Homo sapiens: one gene and its partners. The protein of the gene in region 3 purifies or fractionates together with the protein of the main gene of each other region. This does not show direct contact. Each region holds a gene or a part of one and is shown on either strand. Other genes may lie near its edges. The genes, in order: GDA, NDUFS6, DTX3, NMD3, CHFR, FARSB and NUP35.

Evidence for each region.
Region 1: the proteins of DTX3 (region 3) and GDA purify together in Homo sapiens (affinity purification with mass spectrometry; 2 studies listed by BioGRID and IntAct, with this or other methods). This does not show direct contact.
Region 2: the proteins of DTX3 (region 3) and NDUFS6 purify together in Homo sapiens (affinity purification with mass spectrometry; 2 studies listed by BioGRID and IntAct, with this or other methods). This does not show direct contact.
Region 4: the proteins of DTX3 (region 3) and NMD3 purify together in Homo sapiens (affinity purification with mass spectrometry; 3 studies listed by BioGRID and IntAct, with this or other methods). This does not show direct contact.
Region 5: the proteins of DTX3 (region 3) and CHFR purify together in Homo sapiens (affinity purification with mass spectrometry; 4 studies listed by BioGRID and IntAct, with this or other methods). This does not show direct contact.
Region 6: the proteins of DTX3 (region 3) and FARSB purify together in Homo sapiens (affinity purification with mass spectrometry; 3 studies listed by BioGRID and IntAct, with this or other methods). This does not show direct contact.
Region 7: the proteins of DTX3 (region 3) and NUP35 purify together in Homo sapiens (co-immunoprecipitation; one large-scale study listed by IntAct). This does not show direct contact.

Annotation. Positions count from the first base shown.
Region 1 is NC_000009.12:72,222,440-72,225,939, forward strand, and holds part of GDA (guanine deaminase), read left to right. Parts: intron 1-680; coding exon 681-788; intron 789-3,237; coding exon 3,238-3,345; intron 3,346-3,500. UniProt on the Homo sapiens protein: Catalyzes the hydrolytic deamination of guanine, producing xanthine and ammonia.
Region 2 is NC_000005.10:1,804,407-1,807,906, reverse strand, and holds part of NDUFS6 (NADH dehydrogenase [ubiquinone] iron-sulfur protein 6, mitochondrial precursor), read right to left. Parts: intron 1-3,500. UniProt on the Homo sapiens protein: Accessory subunit of the mitochondrial membrane respiratory chain NADH dehydrogenase (Complex I), that is believed not to be involved in catalysis. Complex I functions in the transfer of electrons from NADH to the respiratory chain.
Region 3 is NC_000012.12:57,603,448-57,607,623, reverse strand, and holds the start of DTX3 (probable E3 ubiquitin-protein ligase DTX3), read right to left. Parts: upstream 2,801-4,176; 5' UTR 2,766-2,800; exon of another isoform or gene 2,054-2,765; 5' UTR 1,893-2,053; exon of another isoform or gene 1,435-1,892; 5' UTR 1,372-1,434; intron 1,182-1,371; 5' UTR 1,135-1,181; coding exon of another isoform or gene 1,107-1,134; coding exon 1,106-1,106; intron 760-1,105; coding exon 11-759; intron 1-10. UniProt on the Homo sapiens protein: Regulator of Notch signaling, a signaling pathway involved in cell-cell communications that regulates a broad spectrum of cell-fate determinations.
Region 4 is NC_000003.12:161,245,311-161,248,810, forward strand, and holds part of NMD3 (60S ribosomal export protein NMD3), read left to right. Parts: intron 1-1,025; coding exon 1,026-1,138; intron 1,139-1,947; coding exon 1,948-2,020; intron 2,021-3,500. UniProt on the Homo sapiens protein: Acts as an adapter for the XPO1/CRM1-mediated export of the 60S ribosomal subunit.
Region 5 is NC_000012.12:132,846,106-132,849,605, forward strand, and holds part of CHFR (E3 ubiquitin-protein ligase CHFR), read right to left. Parts: intron 2,620-3,500; coding exon 2,536-2,619; intron 2,051-2,535; coding exon 1,980-2,050; intron 1,026-1,979; coding exon 938-1,025; intron 1-937. UniProt on the Homo sapiens protein: E3 ubiquitin-protein ligase that functions in the antephase checkpoint by actively delaying passage into mitosis in response to microtubule poisons.
Region 6 is NC_000002.12:222,642,593-222,646,092, forward strand, and holds part of FARSB (phenylalanine--tRNA ligase beta subunit), read right to left. Parts: exon of another isoform or gene 3,030-3,500; intron 2,330-3,029; exon of another isoform or gene 2,293-2,329; intron 414-2,292; coding exon 259-413; intron 1-258.
Region 7 is NC_000002.12:183,155,443-183,158,811, reverse strand, and holds part of NUP35 (nucleoporin NUP35), read right to left. Parts: intron 1,369-3,369; coding exon 1,299-1,368; intron 530-1,298; coding exon 401-529; intron 1-400. UniProt on the Homo sapiens protein: Functions as a component of the nuclear pore complex (NPC).

The DNA of each region.
Region 1 (3,500 bases), on a different chromosome or scaffold from region 3:
TTCCTTATAGATGCTGGATATTAGACTTTTGTCAGATGCATAGTTTGCAGAAACTTTCTCCCATTCTGTTGGTTGTCTGTTTACTCTGTTGGTGGTTTCACTTGCTGTGCAGAAGCTCTTTAGTTTAATTACATCCCATTTATCAATTTTTACTTTTGTTGCAATTGCTTCTGGTGTCTTTGTCATGAAATCTTTTCCCATGCCTATGTCCTGAATGGTATTGCCTAGGTTGTCTTCCAAGGTTGTTTTTTTGTTGTTGTTTGGTTGGTTTTTTGTTTTTTTTTGAGACTGAGTTTCTCTTTTGTTGTCTAGACTGGAGTGCAATGGTGAGATCTCGGCTCACCACAACCTCCGCCTCCTAGGTTCAAGCAGTTCCCTTGCCTCAGCCTCCCGAGTAGCTGGGATTACAGGCATGCGCCACCACGCCCAGCTAATTTTGTATTTTTTAGCAGAGACAGGGTTTCTCCATGTTGGTCAGGCTGGTCTCGAACTCCCGGCCCTCAGGTGATCCACCTGCCTTGGCCTCTCAAAGTGCTGGGATTACAGGTGTGAGCCACCACACCTGGCCCTTCCAGGGTTTTTATAGTTTTCGGTTTTACATTTATGTCTTTAATCCATCTTGAGTTAATTTTTGTATATGATGTAAGGAAGAGGTATCAATTGTTTTTAATTATCTCCAGTATTCTAGAGTGAAGCCCATAGTGACACCACGTTTTTCCCTCTCCTGCTCTGAGACTTTGATGGGTGAACTGGGCAACATTGCTAAAACCCGTGATTTGCACATTCAGGTGGGTATTCTTCTTCTCTTTATGCCTCTATGCAGACCTGCAAGATTTCTCAGCACCCTTAAATCATCATTTCCAATAATCTGTAGTTGTTTTACTGAGTAATCTGTTTCTTCAACTGAGATATCCTAGAGTCACAGCATAACAGGAGAGAAAGGACCCCTGTAGATATCACCTAATCCAATTCTTTCATTTTGCAGATAAGAAACCTGAAGTTCCTTATACCCTCAATGTTTTCTGATCAGTCTTCTAAAGACAAGAAAATCGTTTTAAGTAGTGGCAAGATCAATAACAGACTGTGATCTGTTCTCTGTAGGATACATTTAATGCATTTATTTCCTACTTCTCTTTCACTTGATACTTTCTCAGTGTGTTCTGTACCTTCATTCTTAGAGAAACCAGCTATTATTTGAAAAGCAAAAAGAGCCTAATTTCCACCTTACAAAATAGCATTTAAAATCCCTTTTGTTCTGAGTTTCTTAATTTAAAATCAGAACAAAAAAGTATACCTTGCTTTGTCATTAAATTGTTGCAATTTAGGAATAAAACACTTTTTTAAAGCTTATATCTGGGTTAAAATTGAGAGTTCCCCTTCTCCCATCCAAGCTTAATTACATACTGTACTAAAATTTCTCCTCTTAGGAGTTGACGGTCTTATAAGAAAGGTCAGATCAGGGCAGAGACAACACATTGATTCTTTACCATTTGTAAATCAGTGTTTTTTTGGTTTTTGTTTCCCAAATCTATTTTCTTAGGAACCATTAACCGCTCTCACCTTCCCTATTATTGTTATTATTATTTGCAGCCTATAATTTTTGAATTTTTAATTCAGTCCCACACATTTCTCTGCTGGAGATAAAATTCAAAACTTACCTGATGTTTCTGCTTTGCAAACAAAATGCTTCTGTCGCCGACAAAATAAAATACACATGAACATTTAAAAATACATGAAAAATAAGATGAGAAGAACACACAACAAAATCAAGTTTATCCTTGCTAGAGAGATGCATGTGGATGTATGCACATTTACTCACATTTATCCAAATGACTCGAATCATCAGATTGTCCTTTCTTCTGTTGCTGTCCATGCATTTCATCGGTGGTCTGGGACTTCCTCAAGGCCAGGGATGGAGTTCATTGTCTGAGTAAAACACGTGTTTTCAGAACATTGCTATTTTTTTCTTTTAAAAATTTAGCTACGCATATTCTAAATGGCATTGCCATTCTTGGAAGTATTAATTATGCCCTCTTAGATTTTGTGGTGCCCTAGAGAAAGGTCTTAGGGGCCTTTTTCAGTGTGGGGGCATAGGACTTATTGTTTTGCTTGCATGTGGATTCTTATGGGCTGTTTCTTGATGACCGTGGAATTTTCTAGCTCAGCTATTTTCAAACTCTTTTTTGGAGAACTCATTCTGGAAACTAACAAAGGGCACAGAATGGAGACAGGGTCCCAGAGTCTCAATCCTGCTGCATCCGGAGGGGCAGTGCTTTTATGCCTTCTATATATTGGGTTTCTGTGAATTTTTATATGAATAATATATTCAGTGCCGAGAGAATTTGGAAAATCACTCATCTAGCCCAACCCTTTTTTTTTTTTTTTTTTGAAAGATGGGAAAATTGCTGTCCAAAGAAAAGAATGACTTTCTCTAGGACACATAGCTGTCAGAACTTGGGCCAAACCCAGCTCTCTTTACTCAAATTCCAGTGTTCATATAAGTGAACCCCACTGTCTGCTTTTTTATGAACACTGAGCTCTTTTCTTAAACGGCCAGTATGGCCAGTCACGGTGGCTCACGCCTGTAATCCCAGCACTTTGAGAGGCTGAGCCCGGCAGATTACTTGAGGTCAGGAGTTTGAGACCAGCCTGGCCAACATGGTGAAACCCCATCTCTACTAAATATACAAAATTAGCCAGGCATGGTGACACATGCCTGTAATCCCAGCTACTCAGGAGGCTAAGACAGGAGACTCACTTGAACCTGGGAGGCAGAGGTTGCAGTGAGTGGAGATTGTGCCACTACACTCCAGCCTGGGCGACAGAGCCAGACCCTATCTCAAAACAAAAGAAAGGCCAGCACCAGAAGAGGCAGGTTGCTAGGGTCCTGACTATCTTCAAGGAGGACTTCATATTTGTTCCAGCTGGAGGTCAGAATTTGAAAAGACTTTGTTGGAAAAATTTGTCTTGATATTATACATACACATACACACCCACACCCACATCCACACACACACACTACATGTTCATAATATTCAGTTTCTTTGTCATATACATTATATTATCTATGATGAATATAATTGTTTCTAACAAAATGCATGTGTAATCTTCATTGCCTTTCTATGTGGTCCCTTAAATAGGCAAGTAGAAAACCATTCACACCATTTTGAGGTAGGAAGTGTAATTTCTAATGGTATTTTACAGAAGAAAAATGAAAATATTATTTTTTTCTTGTAGAGCCATATAAGTGAAAATCGTGATGAAGTTGAAGCTGTGAAAAACTTATACCCCAGTTATAAAAACTACACATCTGTGTATGATAAAAACAATCTTTTGACAAATAAGGTAAGTTTTATATCATGACATAATCTGTTTAAAGGAGGGCATATTTATCTCAATTTTAAAATCTCAATAGTAATCTTCAGATTTCTGATATGAATACATTTCTTTAAAAATTTTTTTTAAAGTTTTAATTTTTGTGGGTACACAGAAAGTTTATA
Region 2 (3,500 bases), on a different chromosome or scaffold from region 3:
CTGCCCCCCAAGTCCTAGGAATAGTGGCTGCTTCCTGCAGCTACTGACCCCTGGGTACCTCAGCACTCCCTCTCAGCTCTCTGGTGGCATCCCTCCTGTGACCAACAGTGTGTGTGTGCACGCACGAGAGCCAACATGGTTCGGGTGGTGCTGCGCTGGCCTCAAGAGATGGCTCAATGTAGACGAAAGATGTCACAAGTTTCTTCCACTGCTGATCCGAGGAGTGCGCTTGTCCTGGGTGATAACACAAGTTACCACCACGGGTGTGCAGAGCCTCTGGAGGTGCCGCGTGGGCCCAGCCTCAGCCTCACTTGCTTCCCCACCCGAGTGTGCCCTGCCCTGCCGGCCTCTTGGGAGAAATAAGAATGAGCGACACCAGCCACAGAAGCCTCAGGGAGGAACCTCTGGTCAATTCCTGCGTGGGCCTGAAGCCACTTCCCTCTTAATTTTTTTTTAATTGTGGTAAAATACACATAACATAAAACTTGCCATCTTTACCATTTCTAAGGACACCACGTATATTCACATTATTGTGCAACCATCACCACCACCCATCTCCAGAACCTTCCACCTTCGTAAACTGAAACTCCATTTCCATTCAACACTAACTCCAAATTCACCCCCCGCCCCCGGCAACCACCAACTACTTGCTACCTCTAAGAAGCGACTGTTCTGGTCCCCCGTATCAGAGGAATCACACAGTGTTCACACAGTACCTCTGAGTACCTCACGCAGTACCTCTGAGTACCTCACGCAGTACCTCTGAGTACCTCACGCAGTACCTCTGAGTACCTCATACAGTACTTCTAAGAAGCGACTGTTCTGGTCCCTCGTGTTAGAGGAATCACGCAGTCTGCTTCTGTGACTGGCTCACTTCACTGAGCGCAACGTCCTCCAGGCTTATCCGTGTTGTGGGGCGTGTCAAGCGTTCTTCCTTAAGGCTGAATAATATTCCACTGTCCATGGACAGATCACATTTTGCTTATCCGTTCAGCTGACAATGGACCCCCAAACTGCTTCCAGATTTGAGTTATAATGAATAATGCTGCTATGACACGAGTGTACCCCGGACCCCGCTTTCAGTTCTTTTGGGCACACGCTCAGAAGTGGAACCGCTGGATTGGATGGAAGTCCTAGTTTCAACTTTTTGAGGAACCCACACGCTGTTTTCCTTCACGGCTGTGCCATTTTACATTCCCAGCAGCAAGGCACAAAGTTTCAGTTGCTCCACGCCGTCACCCACGCTTGTTTTCTGTTTGGAGGGTCTTGGTAGTTTTCCTCTCTCGTGAGCACTACTCAATTATTTCCATTAACGAAATCTACACACTCTTCTCAGAAGGATAAAACTTCACATTATCGCAACAAAACAGCACGCCAGGTAGACATTTGCACCGCGTGCAACTGCTCCTAATCCTGGTGGCACCACGCACCTTGAAGTCTGCTACTGAAGAACTGAGGGCCAGGCAGGTGAGGCCACAGGGTCACAACTGGACTCAACCCTGCCAGCCTAGGTGTCTCAGAAAACGTGCAGAATCTCGCTGACCCAAACGCCCAGCTGTGGGCTGTGCGGGTCAGGGAGTGACTCCGCCCTGCCGAGCATCTGAGGAGAGAATCCATCCCACTGGCGGGCAGATGAAGGCACAAGCTGAAGCCCCCAGCTGTTCCGTGATCCTGACACACACAGGTGGAGAGGGGTGGCACAGAGTCGCACTCAAGGGATCCCAGCCTCCTGATGTTCCGGGTTTGCTGCCTAATTCCTTCTTTTCAAAAACTAAAAGTAAAGACCTTGTGTATAGACACTAACGTTTAACTTCAGTATTTTAAAAAAATCTAAAAGTGAAGCCTGCCCTCATGGTGGTGGCGAAGGCAGCAGCAGAGTAAGGCGAACACACACTAGAGGCTTCCCTGGGACAGGCGCTGCTCCAAGCCTTTCCTCATCTACACGGACTCAGTGCCCACGAGCCTACAAGCTAAGTCACTGAAGCACACAGCCCTCATAAGCCCATCAGCGCAGGAGCCTGAATCCGGATGCGGCCAGGCAGGGCAGCCCCAGCTACTAACCAAAAAAGCAAATGATGTCGCCAAGTACCTGGCTACCAGGCTGTTGTTATTGCTGTTATTATTACCACACCTCACTGCAGACCTCCCCCAGTCATCCCTTCTATTAGGGGACAAGTCATATCTGCTTTTAATTTTACTTGTACGACTATAAAGCAATGAAAATATTTCCATCAACAGCAGAGAAATACCTGGTCACTTCCAAGTTTGTTCCAGTCCCCCATCTGACTTATGTGGCCCCAGAGTGCCACCTGCTCCAGGACCATGTGAGGCCTGACTTCTGGCTGGGGGTGGCTGGCACATTCTTTAGCACGTGAGGAGTCTCCTCACAGGCAGGCCCGTCACAGGCCCAGGGGCCATGGATTCCTTTGAAGGTACCCCCGGTCAAAGCTGGGCAGGAGCCACACAAAGATACTTTCCACTGTTTTTCTGCAAAGACCAGCTCAATTATCTAGCTTCCTGCTATGCTTGTTCTACAGGTGAAGTTCAGATTCAGTTTATTTTTTTCTTTTTTTTCTGGAGATAGAGTCTTGCTCTGTTGCCCAGGCTGGAGTACAATGGCATGATCTCAGCTCCCTGCAGCCTCAACCTCCCAGACTCAATGACCCTCCCACCTCAGCCTCCCACGTTGCTTGAGCTACAGGCATGTGCCACCATGCTAGGCTAATTTTTATATTTTTTGTAGACACAGGGTTTCACCATATTGCCCAGGCTGGTCTTGAACGCCTGGGCTCAAGTGATCAGCCCACCTTGGCCTCCCGAAGTGTTGGGATGACAGGCATAAGCCTACTGTGCCTGGCCCAGTTTACTTCTTAAAGTATTACTTGACAAAACTAGAGGACAGTACGATCAGGGGCTGCCAGGGGTTGGGCAGAGGGAGGGATGAACAGGCAGAGCACAGAGGATTTTTAGGGCAGTGAACTCGGTACAACACTGTCACAGTGAATACATGTCATTACACATCTATCCAAACCCTAGAACATACAACATTAAGAGTGAACCTGTGGACTTGAGTTAGTAATAATGTATGAGTATCAGCTCATCAACTGTGACACAGGCAGCACACTAATGAGAGATGGCAGTAAACAGCAGAAACTGAGCTGGGGGGCTGTGAAAACCCTACTTTCTTCAGTTTTTCTGTAAATCTAAAAGTGTTCCAAAAAATTAAGTCTCTCAGAAGCCAAACAACTACTACTAAAAATAGTACTAAACACCAAATTTGTGTTGAAAGAAGGAAAGCTTGGGCAGGATGCCCACTCATCATGTTATCAACATGCCTTGAACCTCCAAGGTGTGAGGCCAAGACGTGCCCTGGACACTCAGGATGCTGAATGGGGGAAGGCACTGGAGGCTAGGCCGGCTGGAGCGTTGAGGTCACAACCAGGACGCCCTGGGTGAGCTGCCGGTCACAGACACTACTATCACACTATCCCGTACCCACC
Region 3 (4,176 bases):
GTCTTCTTACCCCCTGGACACCGGGCGGGAAGACGTACTGGATGACAATGGTGCCGTACTTCTCATAGCTGGGCAGTAGGAGGGTGGCGTCCTTAGAGACCAGCATCCGCCCATTCTGGGGCTGGTTGCCCACCAGCTGCCCATAGAAGCGGCCGCACATGGGGCAGGCCTTTTTCACCTGCAGAGCCCGGGTGATGCAGCCCTCGCAGAATGAATGCCGGCACTTCTCCAATGTCTTGGCATTCTGGATCTCCCCCAGACAGATGGGGCAGGTGCTCTCCTGCTCTTCTGCCTCCTCCCGAAGGCGAGGAGGAAGAGGTGGGGGCAGGGGGGGAGGAGGAGGGGGGAGCCCCCGAGCTCCTGGGGGCAGAAGTGGGGCTGCTCGGAGAGGGGGTGGGCCTGCGCGGTGCATCTCAGGGTGCTCCCCTCCACCCCCCAGAGCCAGGCAGCCCATCAGCTCCCCCTGCCTCTGAGCTTTCTTCAGCTCTTTCTCTGCCTCTTTTAGCAGCCCCTTGAGAGCCTTCCGGGCTAGGTAGAGCCCATTTGGAGGGGCCGGGGGAGGACCCTGTGGGGAAAGCTGGAGAACATAGATGTCAGAAGTCTCGCCATCTATGAGGATGGACACACGGTGCTCCTCCCGAAGCCGGGCCAGCCGGGCTGGGGTCTCTTTGCTCAGGAAGTCCCACACGGGCTTGGACACAGTCACTTTGTTCTTGCAGGTGCCTCCACAGGCTGCCATTCTGGACAGGACGAACGACACTGCCCCCAGGGTGAAAGGGACTCAGGGTGGGGGGTCCCCATTTGACAAGTATCAGTGCCTCCTACTTCAGGTTCCTTCCAAACCCTCTATTACCTCTGTTTTCTCAAAGCCTAATCCCCAACCCTTCACCCAAATTCATATTCTGTCTCCCCTTATCTTCCAAACCCAAAACCCACTGAAGAGCAAAAAAGTTTCCAGAGCTATATTATCATCTAAGCCAAGTATCAGTCTTGTTTCTCCTGTCATTTCTCCCAGATCATAGAAACAACTTGCCCCTCCCACCTCTTGGGGAAAAATGGGCTGTTTAAAGGGGAGGGAGACTCTTTGCCCCTCCTTTTTGCTTACTTTGATCCTGAAGAGCTTAGAATTGGCATGCAGGCTCACTCTTCTTTCCCTGCTCCCTACTTGTAGGTCGTGTGACCTGGTAGGGCGGAAAAATGGAAGGAAAGTGAGAAACCCCTTCTCCCAATTCCCATGGCCCCCAACCCAGCAGCCCATGGAACAGAGACAGAAACCTGGGTATAGGTTACTAAGAATGGCATTACTTGGAACATGGAATGAAGGAAACCAGTTTAAGGGTGAAAATTGAGGATCCCTTGCGGGGGAGATACCTGGAAAGCCCATGGAAGATGATGGCAGCAGAAATCCTTCTATTTCCACTCAGCTGACCAGGACTGGGAGTGGGGGAAGGGTAAAAAGTTATGATGGCAAATGTTACCATTCCCCTCAGCCAACCCAGAAATAAAAACTCCCCTTCCATCTCCTCTCTTCTCTGCAGAATTCCATTATCAGCTTCTCCCCAAGTTGCTCAAGAAGGAACTTCAACATGCTAACCTTCCTCCTTTCTTCCCCAGCTCTGAGGCCCCCAAGAAAGCCTAGGGCACACATAAGAGAAGTCAGGAAAGAAAACGCCCACACAGGTGGAGGTCTTCTTGCCACCTCCCTCAGATCACATGGACCGGAATATTTCCTATGCTCCCCAACTCCTCGCCTGCTCCACATTGCCAAATAATTCAGCCCCTATTGCCAGGGAGCCTTCCTTGAGAGCTAACTCAGTCCCTTCTGCTGAAGTCTGTTAAGGATGTGAACAAAGTGGCAGCAGCCCCTGCAATAACAAAGTTCTCATTGTCACCTTTTAAACCCAGCACAGGCAGTGCTGTCTGTCAGCTCCCAAGTCTGGCATTTAGGGAGGGGCGGGGCTCACACAAGGGCTCAGCTGGAGGGGCCTGATGTTTTCCCTGAGTCTGGTCGCATTGGGCTACGGGGCTGTCTCCACAACACTTCCAAATGCAGCTCAAACAGAAAGAAGGGCCATTAGTGTGACCTCCATTTATTGACTGATCCAAGAAGGAGCAGCTGTCCCTTCATGCCTCCATCATCGTCCCCCAAGGCCAGATGCACCTCGAGATTCATAAGTGAAAATGGAACCCTAGAGTCTCAGCCCATACAGTCTATCCGCGATGCAACACTTCTCTCCCCATCACGGGGGACCCAGGACCTAGGTGTCCTAGGTCCAAGTCCTGCTGGCACAGAAAAGGGAGGCGGGGCCCCAGTTTAGGGTGGGTCTGTGATTCCTCTGTGGCAACCCAGGCCGGACAAGGAACCAGTCTCTCCCTCCAGACAGAGGCCAGAGGGAGGCACAGCCCGGATGGGCAAGGGTCCCTGGGGGCATCCACTGAAGCAGCTCCCGCCCTCCCCCCACGGCCTCCTCCAAGACCCGACCCGGAACCAACTCCCCACATCCCTCAGTAGCCAAAGCCCCCGGATCCCCACCGCCGGGTGGGGGTGCATGTCGGCCCGATCGCAGCCCTCAGAACCCCCGAATGGAGGCCAAGGCTGGAGGGTGCTAGAAAGATGATCGGCCGGGCACGGAGCGGGGAGCCCGGAGCCGCGCGCGGGGAGGGGAGGTGGAGGAGGGGGCGCCGGGGGAGCGGGGGGCGCGTGAGGGGTGCGAGCGGGGCCCGGGGGGCGCGCGGTGGGTGTGGGGGGCGCCGGGCTCACCTACCTCTCGTCAGCGCCGCCATTGCCGGTCACATGACTGAGGCTGTTGCTGGGATGACGGTCCGGGCCTTAGCAACAAGGAGGGGGAGACCCCGAAAGGTGGGGGATTGCAGGGGGTGCAGGCTGAGGAAAAGGGAAGGAGGGAGGACAGCACCCCCTTTCCCCTCACAGGTGATAATCACCGTTCCTTTGACCCCCTTCTATCCGCAAGCCCCTGCCCTTCCTCCCCAAAACAAAAATGGAGGCGCTGTCCCAGTCTTTGGAGGGAGGGGGTGGCGTCATGGAACTGAGGGTAGGAGGTTAAATCCCTGGAGACGCCACCCTACTCGCTCCCCGCTCCCGGCGGAGCACTCTCCCTTTTCTTTCCCAGCCAGCTGCGTAGCAGCTCCCAGGAGCTGGTGGTGGATGGGTGGGTGAAGTGTTGGTGGGTATATGGGGATTCGGGGGGAGGGCGGCAATTTTTTGAATCCTTATGGTAGAAGGGCCTTTGAGGAACAATGTGGGATGGGAAGAGTCATAGTAAAAAGAAAAGCATTGGCTCTAAAAAATAAACAAATCCGGGTACTAAACTATTTCAATCCCCTCCCTCATCTCCTGCCTCTTTCTAGATTGTTACCTCCTATGACCCCCACAACCTGCTCTCAGATGATCATTGGTCAGTGCCTCTGATTTTTCTTTCCACAAACAGGGATATGGAGGCTGGTGCAGAATGGGAAGCGAATACATTTTTTAAAAAGTGGCTCGAGGTGGTGGTGGTGTCAAGTGTATGGTTCAAATAGAGTTAAAAACTCTCAAAGAAGAAAAAAAAAAAGCTCTGCTCTGCTTCCCACATCAAGCAGTCTCCGCCCAATCCAACTCACTTCCCTGGGGCCACATCAAGCCAGGTTTTTCCACCAGCCAAAAGACTTCCTCAGCCAAGACAGGCAGGAATCTCCCAAACTGGCAACAACCTCTATTCATCCACCCCTTTTTCACTCCCCCCTCTAGACTGGAGGGCTAGTCACTTTCTTCACTTTCCCAGGACCCTGCTGTACTCTTCCTTCCCTCCAGGAAGAGGACAGCTTTCCCAGGAAGCCTGGGGGAATACTAGATTCCTTTTCTTTTAGCTGGTGGGCTGAGAGGCCTACTCACCTTTACAAAGATGGAGTGTTAGCAAGCCCAGAACTCTGGGAAGAGGAAGGGTCCCATCACCCTACTCTTCCCTGGCCCTCACTACCGCTGACCTCCCACAAGGTTAAAGACTAAGTTTTCCATTCCCGTGCACACCCTTCACAGCCTTTTTAAAAAAGTTCACAGCCATCTGTCTAGAAACCCACATCCTTAGTTAGGGGCCCAACACCTTGAACACCAGAATTCTTCAGCTGGTCTCTGCACCCTTAAACACAGGCTCCCTGAGAGAAGTGAAATTTAAAAAA
Region 4 (3,500 bases), on a different chromosome or scaffold from region 3:
TATCATTTCCCTTCAGGCAGATATAAAACCAGATACTGTATTTTCTTGGTTTTTAAAAAATAGCTAGAAGAGGTTAATAAATTTCTTACAAGCAGAAGTCTAATAGCTAGAAAGTAAATCCTGTTAAATAAAATGTAGTCTCCCTGTTAATTGACTTTTCTTTTGCAGTTCTTAAGTTTGAGACTTGTCTTTTATTTCAGTTTCTCCTTCTGCTCTATTTCTTTTCATTTTTTTCATTTCTTTTTCTTTGACCAACTGCAATAAGAAACACTTGATTCTTTTCATAACTTTATTTTGAGATTCCTTAATTTTATTTATAACTCTTAGTATTTTTCTCTCGATCTCACTTCAGTTGGTCTGTCTTTGTTGTTAAAGGTGTTGGCATGTTAGAAAGGGAATTAATAGTTTTCTAGTTTAAAAATTGGGATGTTGTTTCTGCTATATATATATTATATATAGCAGATGTACTATATTATATATAGCAGATGTAGAGAATGATTGTAGTCTACACTAGTAGATACTTTAAAAATTAATTTGATAAAGATTTGGCCTCTCTAGTGGTTTACTACCAGGATTTCTAGGCTGTTTTGTCTGGACCCTGATTTTCTGAACCCTTGTGTCAAGCAAGAGTTTGCTTGGAATACGTTCTTGCTTTAAGATTCCCCTACCTTTTCAGTTATTTTGTTCACTCTGCCTATGTTGGCCCATCTTCCTGTGAAAACATTTCTTTTGAAAATTCTACATATATATATTTTTAGGGACATTATTAATGTTTTATAAAAGTCTTGAATAAAATCTTAGAAAAAGTCAATGATTTATTTTTATGAATTGTTTGTGAGTCTTTCTATACTCATGATTCAGTAATTTGTTAATTTTGACAGTGTTTCATACATCAGAAAAATACAAAAAATTTTCTGTCTTTAAAAATTAGAAAACCAAAAATCAATATTGTATTTAACTTTTCTCTGAGATGCTTTTAGAGTTATGTTTAGATTATTGAAGAGTACATTTTCTTTCCTCTTAAGCATACCCTCGGGGAAGTCTGGGTACAGAAGACATCTGAAATGAATACAGATAAACAGTATTTTTGTCGTACTCATTTGGGACATCTTCTAAATCCCGGAGACCTGGTGTTAGGGTTTGTATTATTTCATATTTTAAACTGCCAATTAGGATTGCAAATTTTCTTTGGGAACCAGCAAAACTACCTAAAAATACTAACATTGTTTATTCTAAAAAGATCGAAGGGTTCTTAGGAGCCTTATAACTCATTTTATTGTTGATAACTAAATTAAACTGGGTTGGACAGAAGCCCATAGTTACTCCATTTTGGTTATAATCTTAAAGAGTAATTTGTTGTAAGATTTTGTTAATTGAGCCTTGAAGTTATATGGTTGTATCCATATTTAGAACTGCTTTTGCAGATTGGGTCTTTTTTATTGTGCAGTTGCTACTGCTCAGATAACTCACTTTTAAGATATGACAACTATATATATACAAAGGGCTTGTAAAGGCATAGATCAGTTCTTTCTGAATCAGAGTTTTTCAGTGAGTGTGTGATTAAACCCTCAAATATTGCTTTTGCTTTTAGGATTTCAGTTTCTTTTACTACAGAATGAGGTGTTTTTTTTTTGTTTGTTTGTTTAAAATAAACTAGAAGGAAGCAACTAATTGAATTCTAAAGTTGGACTGATATGTAAGTCTGTTTTGCTTTTACAAATGTATGGCAAGGTGGACAATAATTGATTATAAGTGAAACTCAGAGTTCCTTATTGTCTTTACCAGCATCTACAGAAGCATGTTCATTGTGTAATAAATGACAGAACTTTTAAAGTGAGAAGCATATTAAATGTTTGATTTTTAGGAAGTTTTAGGTGATAGCCATAAAATAAAAAGTTACACACAAAGGGTAAATGGTCACTAAGTTTTTCATTGTTTACATTTCAGGTTTGATTTGGCCAACTGTAACTTAAATGATGAGCATGTCAACAAAATGAACTCAGATAGAGTTCCAGATGTGGTAAGGCTTTAGATTTTTCCCTTTTTTCCTGTGTTAAAGAGGATGAATGTAACTCTTAGGGGTAAGAGGTAGGAGTTCACACTTTTGAAAATAACAAATCAATTTAGAGATTTCTGAAACTGCAGATAAGGTATAATAGCAAAATTTTTTTTTTTTTTTTTTAAAGAAACAGGAGGCTGGGTGCAGTGGCTCAAGCCTGTAATCCCAGCACTTTGGGAGGCCTAGGCAGGTGGATCACCTGAGGTTGGGAGTTCGAGACCAGCCTGACCAACATGGAGAAACCCTGTCTCTATTAAAAATACAAAAAAATTAGCCAGGCGTGGTAGTGCAAGCTTGTAATCCCAGCTACTTGGGAGGCTGAGGTAGGAGAATTGCCTGAACCGAGGAGGTGGAGGTTGTGGTAAGCTGAGATTGCGCCGTTGCACTCCAGGCTGGGCAACAAGAACAAAACTCAGTCTCAAAAAAAAAAAAAAGAAATGGGAGTCTTGCTTTATTGACCAGGCTTGCGTGCAGTGTCATGATCACTCACTGCAGCTCAAAATTCTGAGCTCAAGTAATCCTCCCACCTCAGCCTCCTGAGTAGCTGAGACTACAGGCACATGCCACCACTCCCAGCTAATGTTTAAAACACGTTTTGTAGAGACGGGGTCTTGTTATGTTGCTCAGGCTGGTCTCGAACTCCTGGCTTCAAGTGATCCTCCCACCTCAGCCTCTCAAGTAGCTGGGATTACAGGTGTCACCTATCATGCCTGGCTTCATTTTAAATAATTTTTCTTGGTGGGGTAAATCCAAGATTTATTGTGATTGTTCCTTTTCTAATCACATTTTCATTCTCGATCAAAATACCTGATATTATCTGTAGAGCAAAAATAAATTTAGCCGGGTGCGGTGGCTCATGCCTGTAATCCTAGCACTCTGGGAGGCTGAGGTGGGTGGATTGCTTGAGCTTAGGAGTTCGAGACCAGCCTGGAAAACACAGTGAAACCCCATCTTTACTAAAATACAAAAAATTAGCCAGGCGTGGTGGCATGCACCTGTAGTCCCAGCTACTTAGGAGGCTGAGGCAGGAGAATTGCTTGAACCTGGGAAGTGGAGGTTGCAGTGAGCCAAGATCATGCCACTGCATTCCAGCCTGGGTGATAGAGCAAGATTCCGTCTCCAAAAGATAAATAAATAAATTTGCAGCTAAAAATGATGACATTTAGCATTTTTTCAGGTTCATTTTTATTAGGCTCACTTCGTTTCACATACATTGTTCAGTTAAGAAGGCATTTAGAGTTAAGGCTGTTATTCAAAGCTGAATAAAATATCCGTGAAAAATAATCTTCACAGTATCAAGCCTTGGAAAAAAACTATTAATTCTGAAAAATCTGTTAAGTTCTAACATGATGAGGTTAAGAATCATGAGAAACTGAATGAAATTAGTGTGAAAGACCCTGTCTTCTATACTTGCTTAATCTTTTAGAATAAACATTGATTT
Region 5 (3,500 bases), about 75 Mb from region 3:
CCCTTTGTTCAGTCCTGTAATGATGGTCTCAAGCAGTAACAGCAGTAACTGCTGTAGTGAGGGTCTCAAGCAGCAGTAGTGGCAGTCGGCCACACCCACCCTCCCCTACAAGGATAGAAGCTGCTGGAATATGTCATACAGGTTCATGCTTAACTGTCTTTTTTTTTTTTTTTTTGAGACGGAGTCTCGCTCTGTCCCCCAGGCTGGAGTGCAGTGGCGTGATTTTGGCTCACTGCAAGCTCCGCCTCCCGGGTTCACGCCATTCTCCTTCCTCAGCCTCCCGAGTAGCTGGGACTACAGGCGCCCGCCACCACGCCCGGCTAATTTTTTGTATTTTTCTTTTTTTAGTAGAGACAGGGTTTTACCGTGTTAGCCAGGATGGTCTCAATCTCTTGACCTCATGATCCGCCCGCCTCAGCCTCCCAAAGTGCTGGGATTACAGGCGTGAGCCACCACACCCGGCCCACGCTCAACTTTCAAAAAACAACCTGAAGGCCGGGCATAGTGGCTCACGCCTGTAATTCCAGCACTTTGGGAAGCTGAGGTGGGCAGATCACCTGAAGTCAGAAGTTCAAGACCAGGCTGGCCAACATGGGGAAACCCCATCTTTACTAAAAATACAAAATTAGCTGGGTGTGGTGGCACATGCCTGTAATCCCAGCTACTCAGGAGGTTGATGCAGGAGAATCGCTTGAACCCAGGAGGCCGAGGGGGCCTTGAGCTGAGATCATGCCACTGCACTCCAGTCTGGGCAACAAGAGCGAGACTCCATCTCAAAAAACAAACAAACAAACAAAAACAACCTGAAAGCATCAGGATCTTTTTCCTCTCTTCCAGGGTGGGTGAAGGTCGGAGTTGTCACTGGGAGAGCAGACACGCAGGCACAGCCCTGGACACTCACATGCGCCTTAGAGCAGGAGGCAACAGAAGAACTCACCAGACAGCAGAAACACTCCCCGCTGGAGAGCCACGAGGCTCTCGGTCAACATGTTTTTCCATGTCAAACCTCTGGTTGCCAGGTAATTCTGTGACGCAAAAAAAGAGAGGAATAAGAAATACTCGTTTAGAGGAAGAAACACTGAAATAACGAGAGAAAACATTTCATAAAAGGCCCCTGAAAGTGTGCAAAGCCAAAGCTCAGACCCTTATAAGTGGCATTTGCAGAGGGCTGCACGTTCACGGCCTGCAGCACGAGAAGTCTTGTCCAAGAGCCTCCTGGAAGTCCCAAAAGGTTCCAGTGTAACAGTTACCAGAGTCTCTCAAAAGTTCTGCCAAGACCTACACAGCCCAGGTGTGAATGAGACATGAAAGCCAGGCCACAGTGCACACAGCCCAGCAACGAGCCCAGGCTGTTGCACAAGAAAAGCTGAGGACTTGGCATCTGTTCTCTGTGCCCTTCAAACACACACGAGCTGTTGAGCTCCTTCTGTGGGCATCAAAGCAGAGTGTGGGGCTGAGCGGGCGCCTGCCAGGTGTGTCTGTGGCAAGCCTCAAGGCCCCACCATTGTGTGTGCTGTCAGCAAAGTGCTCGGCAGGAGGGCGAATGCGCATGTTAAACATATGTAAATCCTAGAAACCGAGGTAGCTTCCTAGACGTGGGAAGGCAAATGGCCAGAAGAGACAGGGACCAGAGAAAAGGCCCTGGTCTTGCTAAAGGGCGGCACCTTCAAGAAGCCCTCACCGAGAGCTGTGGGAACAAGAGCTGCCGGGAACAAGAGCTGCGGGAAGCGGCTCCTACGAATTGGTGGCAGGAGGCACAAAAACGAAATACCTATTTTTGGAATACGGAAAAAACAGACAAACACCAATGGCATGCAGAGAACCAGCTGGCTGCACCAGTGAGGAAACATGGCTCCCGGCTCCCCAACCCGCAGCGGGTCAGGTAAAACAGATAAACACCAATAGAATGCAGAGAACCAGCTGGCTGCACTAGGGAGAAAATGTGGCTCCCGGCTCCCCAGCCCGCAGCGAGTCGGTACCTTCAGGATGTCTGACTCGTAGCTGTTGTTGTTCAGCACGCCGTCCAGACACTTGTCACCCAGGTTGAGCTCTGCCGAGATGAAGGGGCAATGTTACCTGTTTATAATGATGTCGCAGGAAAGCACTGTCTGCCCGACACTGAGGATAAACATATTTCTTTTCATTACAGATTCTAGAAAGAATAAGAAGTTCAATGATAAAACTCAATTTTAAACAGAGGACAAGCAGAAATGATTTCCATTCCACTCCCTCCTTAAAAAGATCAGCTCTCCGAGTCTCCCCAGCACCTGGTCTTGGTATCGTAACAGCAGAACCCCGCTGCAAGGATTCTGTCCTGGGAGTATCTCCCCTAATAATTCTGTTAAGGCTTGATTTTGAGCTAACACGAATTTGACACACCTCTGCAGTCCAGCCAGGAATAGGTATCATTTGATGACCAACAGTGGCCTCATCCCTATAAACATCAGGCTATGGACCCCACCATCCCCTGCCCTCAAGTTCACCAAGAGAACATGCAAAGGTCAAAGCAACTGGGGCCTGAAGAGCCAGTATTACCACAAAACGGGGCCAGGCAGCCGTAGCAGCCGGTCCGGGTGCAGCCCCAGTACAGGTGGCAGAAAGGCTGCAGGCAGACCGCACCTGTGGAGAGAGGACACTCGTTACACGCACTCAGCGCTGAGGGCTGTCTCCAACACAATTCGTCAGCACCAGGCTCAGGAGCTCAACTCTTTCTGGAAACATTGTTCAGGAGGGGTCTCATGGAAATCGGGGCGGGGCCACATCCAGCTAACGCCACCCAGGTTGTGATGGACTGTGATGGCGAGGAGTTGTATCCCTGAAAAAAGGCGAGGCTCACATTTTCTGGTTTGTTATTTTTTAGAGATGGAGTCTCGCTCTGTGGCCCAGGCTGGAGTACAGGGGAACAATCACAGCTCACTGCAACCTCCGCCTCCTGGGTTCAAGGGATCCACCCACCTCAGCCTCCTGAGTAGCTAGGACTACAGGTGCACACCACCAGGCCCGGCTAATTTATTTTTTATTTTTGTAGAGACAGGGTCTCACCATGTTGCCCAGGATGGTTTCAAACTCCTGGCTTCAAGGGATCCTCCCACCTCAGCCTCTCAAAGCGCTAGGATTACAGGCATGATGCACTGCGCCCGGCCTCAGACCCACATCGTTTCTTAAACTGAACATTTACAGGCGTGATGCACTGCACCCGGCCTCAGACCCGTATCGTTTCTTAAACTGAACATTTACAGGCGTGATGCACTGCACCCGGCCTCAGACCCGTATCGTTTCTTAAACTGAACATTTACAGGCGTGATGCACTGCACCCGGCCTCAGACCCACATCGTTTCTTAAACTGAACACCACATGCTCATCCCAGGAAAACAGTGAGAGACACAAAAGAAAGAAATCTCACCTGCTCCACCACCCTAACACGGCTTCGATGGGCTTCATTCTAGCTCTGAACATGCAACATGCTTGCCCCCAACTGCACATATTCAGGTGGCTTTTTT
Region 6 (3,500 bases), on a different chromosome or scaffold from region 3:
AAGACGCCATAAAAGCATTAAACACCAGTTTTAAAATATGTTCTCAAAGATGAATGGCTATGACTAAAATTTTCATGGAAATTTTCAAATGGCTACAATCTGCATGAATCTAATTCCTCAAATCAACCCTCTATTGAGAGCTAAAGCTACGTTCCTCTACAAGCTTTTTCCTAGAAATTTAAACATGGCTGCTGATAATGACAAGGAAAGAAAAGAAAACCCAACTTAGCAAAGTCTTTAAGGAACATATTTCCTTACCTTTCTTTGAAGACCTGAAGTCCTCGAACCAATCCTTCCAGACACAGGAGATCATATCTATTGGCAGGGACGTCAATTTTGTAAAGAACAACATCAGAGGCTCCTGCTGCCTTTACATTACCTTGTTCTTTACTTATTATTTCCTTCTCAGATGTCTAAAACAAGCCAAAAAGTAATGATAAAAATTAAATAATTTAAACTCTCTTTAAAAAGTAAAAGTTGTCAGCCCTATAAGGCAGTAACTACATTATACATATTTTCTATAACAAGAACATGGGATTATTATATCCACGACAAAAACAACATGAAAATATTAAGTGTTATAATCATAGCAGACAGAAAAATACTTCAGCTTTAACTGAGTTCAGATATCTGGCAACCTCAATCACCCCAGAAAAGCACAAATCCATCTAAACAAGGGTCAGCAAGCAATAGCCCCCTGGCCAAATCATACCTGATACTTGTTTTTGTAAATAAAGATTTATTGGAACACAGACAGACCCATTCATTTACATATTATCTACTGCTACTTACACACTGCAATAGCTGAGTTGTAACAGAGACTATAGAGCCAAAAAGCCTAAATATTTACTATCTGGCCCTTTACAGAAAAAGTTTTCCCATCTCAAGCTAAAAGAAAATTAAAACATCACCAAGAACATAAAGTAACAACAACAAAAGTGTCAAAGGGGTAAAAGAAAGATGATTCACTAAATAAAAGAAACACAACTTCTTATAGGATGACTCTAAAACCTAAATCCTGTGGGCACCCAAGTCCACATGAGAATGAGAGGGGTAGTATAAAAACTAAAAACAGTCAGAGACCATCAGACACTGGTAAAAATTAGAAGGGATAATAGGTACAATGGGAAGCAAACTAGTGATAGCAAAGGGATAGTGCAGCAGAATGAAGGCAGCCAAGAGGGAGATGACAGAAGAAACACCACTAGAATCACGTTTAATGCAGTGGCAAAGAGTTTAGAATATCTCAAGCACCACACTACAGCAGAGTAACAGATTTTCTTAAACATAACCACTGCAGAGAAGTTACACTCTATTCCTTATGTTTACTACAGCAGGGAACTGTAAATATATTTAAGAAATTTTCACTTGAAATGATTACAAGTTGTATTCCAACTGTTAATGTTACGCTTTAATTATGTGGAAACTCCACTTAACCAGAATTCCTACTATTTCCACCACCAACAACCTGCTAAAATAACTGATGGATTTCTATCAAAATATGTAATGATTTTTGTTTTACATGATGCCCTCCCACTGCCACAATATAAGTAGTTCAAATTTTTGTCCAAATTAAGAATTATATCCACATTTGCACAATATGCAGAGAAATTCACTTCTGGCCACGAGTATTATGTGCCAAAGTCCCACCTGAGGAACCACAGGAGTCTATGCAATGCTGGGGCTGTACAAGGTGGTGCTGGGCTCCAAAAAACCTCTACCTTGGGCATCTCAAACTTAGGAGGCAAATTTTTATAATTAGGGAAAATGAAAAATGAAAAACAAGAGAATGAAGAGGAGGAGGAAGGAGTAAAAAGGGGGAAAAGAAAAGAAGGGGAATGGGGAGAGGCAAAAAGAGAAGAGGAAGAATTCGAGTTTAAACAATGTTCAATCAAAGGGGTTAATAAAATTACTGTTTCAATAGTGAAGAAAGCTGAGTCACCTCCCAGGAGATGGCAGATCTCAGGAGGGACCTATATACAGAGAAGATAATATAATAACCGGAGAAATGAAGGCATCTGCATTCATTTTTCAGCAGCACCCCCTTATCCACAGGGGATATGTTTCAAGCTCCCCAGTGGATGCCTGAAACATTGGATAGGACTAAATGTTACATATACCATGTTTCTTCCTATACATACATACCTATGAAAAAGTTTAATTTATAAATTAGGCACAGTAAGAGATTAACAACTAATAATAAAATAGAACAATTAAAATAATATACTATAATAAGAGTAATGTGAATGTAGTCTCTTTCTGTCTCAGAATTTCTTATTGTACTATACTCACCTATTTTCAAACCACAGTTTGCTGCAGGTAACCAAAACTGTGGAGGCAAAAAACTGTGGATAAGGAGGAACTACTGTAAAAAAAGATCTAATTCCTTTGCAAAAAAAAAAAAAGACACAGAAGCTTACATCTTCTTTCAGTTTCAGCATCTCAGCTCATACAATGACCATATGTAAAGACTGAATTTGTCAGTGCTACCTGACAATAATCTTACAGAAATTTAAAATCACATAAATTTCAGAGTCAAAAAAGAAAACCATAAAGATCATATAATCCAAACCCCTTATTTCACAAATGAAAAGGAGGCCCAGAGAGACTCGTCTGGACTATAGAGTTCAGACAGGCAAAGTAATTGTCCATAGTTACACAGCTAGTAAATGTTAGAACTAGAACTCAAATAATCTAACATCCAGTCCAACACTCTTAGATATCACATAATTTCAAACATAATTCTGAGGTGTAGTAAAATTACGAATAGCAACTTATAAACTACAGAAATCTCAGCCAATTTCTCAAGTATACAAATAGATTAGTACAAAGATGATCTTTCTGTAACATTAGTAAGGCAGCAGGAAAAATAAGGTAAGATAATGTACAATTTTTTAGCCTGAACATTTTTTAACTTTACACCTAAGGTAGTGTTATAAAAGCACTGAATAGGTGAAGATAGAAGGCTTAGGAAAAAAATAATACTAACTATCAGAAAATTATCTTTTAAATTAAAGTATGTCTTTTTTTTTTTTTGAGAAAAAAATTGGGCTTTTATTGGCAATTACAAAAGTAATAGATTTTCTTACATAATACGTTCCTTCAGTAATATATTTTTCAAGTATTTTACCATAGAATTTCTAAAGTACTTTGTCATTGACCCCATAATTTATTATAAAGTAGGTCCCATAATCACATTTTTTGGAAGTTGCTGAAATTGAGATAAAAAATATTGTTTTTTTATGAGAAAAACTGGACAAAATACAGAATGGCCAAAACTAGATTAACTGGCTCAGTTATGTCTACTAGGTGAAAGAAAATACAGAATCTGTTACTGTAGAAATTTTAAGAGGTTTTGAGTCAGTTCCAGTATAAAAATAAGGCCAAAGTTCTCCTGTAAAATCATCATTAAAAGTACAGAGAAGAGATCTATCATTCAAATTATAAAAGGAAACCTCATTCATTTCACAGTCTAAAAAAATGCCAATCTTACTAGGTGT
Region 7 (3,369 bases), on a different chromosome or scaffold from region 3:
TCAGTTAATGTTAATATGAACTAATTCATTCTGAAATAGTACCATTCCATTTAAGTACTTTAAAGAATCTGGTATCGCTTTGCACAAGAAAGAGAATGGATTAGTAGTCAAGAGACCTAAAATCTAGGCCTCACCTTTAACAACTCTGGACAAGTTACTTAAGCCCTCTCAGTTTCTTTATCTGAAAAATGAAGAGGTGAGGACAGATTACCTCTAAATTCTAAACTCTATGATTAAATACCTTCGGCTTACCACAAAGAGTACTATAAACATCATCACATTTTACAAACTAAGAAAAACAGACACAGTGAAACCAAGTGACACAACGACCAATTTCAATCCTTGGTCTTGTGCTCTTCATATAGATTAAGCTACTTTGCCTACATCACCAATAACTTACTTTGTCAATACATGGTTTTACACCAATCATGATGGATTCTCCAAAAATCCTCCCATCTTTGCTTAAGGCTTTCCGAGCCTGCAGTTTAGATTGATAACGAATATGCATCCAATTTCCTGTATTAGACATCTGCAAAGAATAAAACTGTCTCTTAAAATAGAAAATATATAAAATCTACATCTAATGAATTCTACTAGAAAATAGGAACATGGTAAGATAAATTTACTTCCATTCCGTATTTGATGCCTTGTAAAAAGCTGTAAAGTTCAACAAAAATCGTATTTAGAACAGCTTCAACAATCTCTCAATTCTCTACAATCAACATGTACATATTCTCTGAAAGTAAGATACTTCTCAAAATATGTTTATTGTAAAGAGATCAAAGCAACACTTGCCATAAAGTTATTTAAAACTACTCAATTTGATTTTGTATAGGAGTTAAGTCAATCTCTAGCAACAAAAAAGGATTTGTTACTTATAACTTGTAGCACAAGGTAAGATAATTTTTTAAATTTTAGAGCTATAAAGCTCTAAAAACTCTAAAAGCTCAGGAACTGCCTCCTACTTCTTTTATCCCCAATAAAAGCAGCTCAAATTGGAAAACAGTAATATAATACTTGGCATAATCTATCTTTTTTAAGACTGTAAACTGTTTAAGAAAGGAGGTGAGAGGAGGTGGATTTTCAAACTCTCAATTCTCCATATCTTCTCACTATATCTCTTTTTATCAAAAATTAGGCAACTTCCAGCCTTCCAGACTTCAAAGGATGTATTATATCAAAACTCAAAAAAAAATTTAAGTTTAAAAAAAACCCACAAAATTCAGAAGCAGTTTCTCTCAATTCACAACTTATCCCTCTTTAGTCAAAACTCTGAACTGAAAAAAATTAAGCCTTACCACATGTTTTAAGATATTCCCATACTGTGCAAATTGTAGTAATATGTAGGAAGCAGATGCTTGAGGAAACCTGAAAAAAAGAGTTGTCCAAAGAAAACGTCAGCTTCTACTATCAATGTGAATGCAAATTACTACAAGATAATGTTTCAAGATAAATGGCCCCCAACTGTCTAGAACGTTAACAGGAGAGTGCTGATCATCCTGTTTTCCCCGATATGGGCTAATTCTGTCAGTGACTAGTCACTCAAAAGCAAATACCTTAAAGTTAGTCTTATCCTGCCATTCTTCTCCATCCTCAGATTCTACCTCTGAAATCTCTAAAAATGCTACTCTCGTTGCCATTATCCAGGTCTTAGAAAAAAAACTATAAAGTTGCAGTTCTATATATAATTTATTTCAATATGTGTATGTTAATATGTAATATATTTAGGTATACTACGGTTATGAAAAGATAAAGAATTTTAAATTATAAACGAATCATTATACATTGAGCATCACTTAAAAATTCTGAAATTTAGTATCATAACAAAGAGAAAATTCAGCATCAAAATATTTATGGTATAGAATCACTTAAAAGGACAGTTACCAAAATTTGATTAGCCATATCTCTGCATGAGAAAATTCTAAGTAATTTTTACTTTCTTCTTTATAAAGTTCTGTATGGTTTGGATATTTTACAATGACATATTATTCTTTTATAGTCTTAACAATAAAGCTGTTTTCAATTTGAAAACAATAACCACTACCAATCGCATAGAAATGGCTATCTAACTTCAGTTATCTGAAGACTGAATTAGAACCCTAAAGAAAAAAAAAAATTCGAGTCTCAAAAATAAATCAGAAACCAAACACATTAAAAATCTATGTGAGGCTGGGCACGATGGCTCACACCTGTAATACCAACCAGCACTTTGGGAGGCCGAGGTGGGTGGATCACTTGAGGTCAGGAGTTCGAGACCAGCCTGGCCAACCTGGTGAAACCCCGCCTCTACTAAAAATACAAAAAATCAGCTGGGCATGGTGGCGGGCACCTGTAATCCCAGCTACTCAGGCGGCTGAGGCAGAAGTATCGCTTGAACCTGGGAAGGAAAGGTTGCAATGCGCCAAGATCGTGCCACTGCACTCCAGCCGGGTGACAGAGTAAGACCTCATCTCAAAATAAATTAATTAATTAAATAAAATCTATATGAGTAAAATATTCACTGCAATCAGAACTGAAAATTCATTTGTATAAAATCTGGACATGAAATTTCTAACCACAAAGAAAAACAACAAATAGGTTGGGTGCCTACAGGGCAGAGATCAAACAAAAATGAAAAGAAGAAAGAATGGCTGCAAGTGAGGGAAGTACTTAAGAAATAAAACATAATTCTAAAACTCTTGGACCACTTTGAGTAGAAACTTACATTCTAGTACTCTATAGCAGAATCACCCAAAACAATGAATATTTCATAACCCTAAGTCAGTAGGAAAAAGTTAAACTACCAAAGAAAGAACATATATAATGCATCCTTTAGAGGTACTTCCCCATAAATGATCAAAATAAAATACTTTATCCCTTAAAGGAGAATGCTTCAGTTCTTGAAATTAAAGTCATAGAGGGTTATTAAAACACGAAAGTAAAAAAATAAACAGCTGGGAGAGTTAATGTCTGAAATACGAAAAAATACTAGGAGTGCTTCAAGTAATTTATCTAATTACTGGAAATCTTAAAAGTTAAACCACTACTACTGAGCCTGAAAAACAGATTTAAGAGTGGGTACCTATTTTCAAAAACATGCAGCCAAGCTGGCTCATGCCTGTTATCCCAACTACTCATGAGGCTGAGGTAGAAGGATTGCTTGAGGCCAGGAATTGGAGGCTGCAGTGAGCTATGATCATGCCACTGCACTCCAGCCTAGATAACAGAGAGATTGTCTCAAAAAAAAAAAAAAGCCATTTTATGAGAGACTATAAAAATGTAAATGTAAAAGAAGAAGAAGAAAAAAAACACACCAGCCCAATTGCTATGGATATAGGACTGAGTATGGACTTTCTAGAGAACAACGGAATGCAATGACCCGCTTTTTAC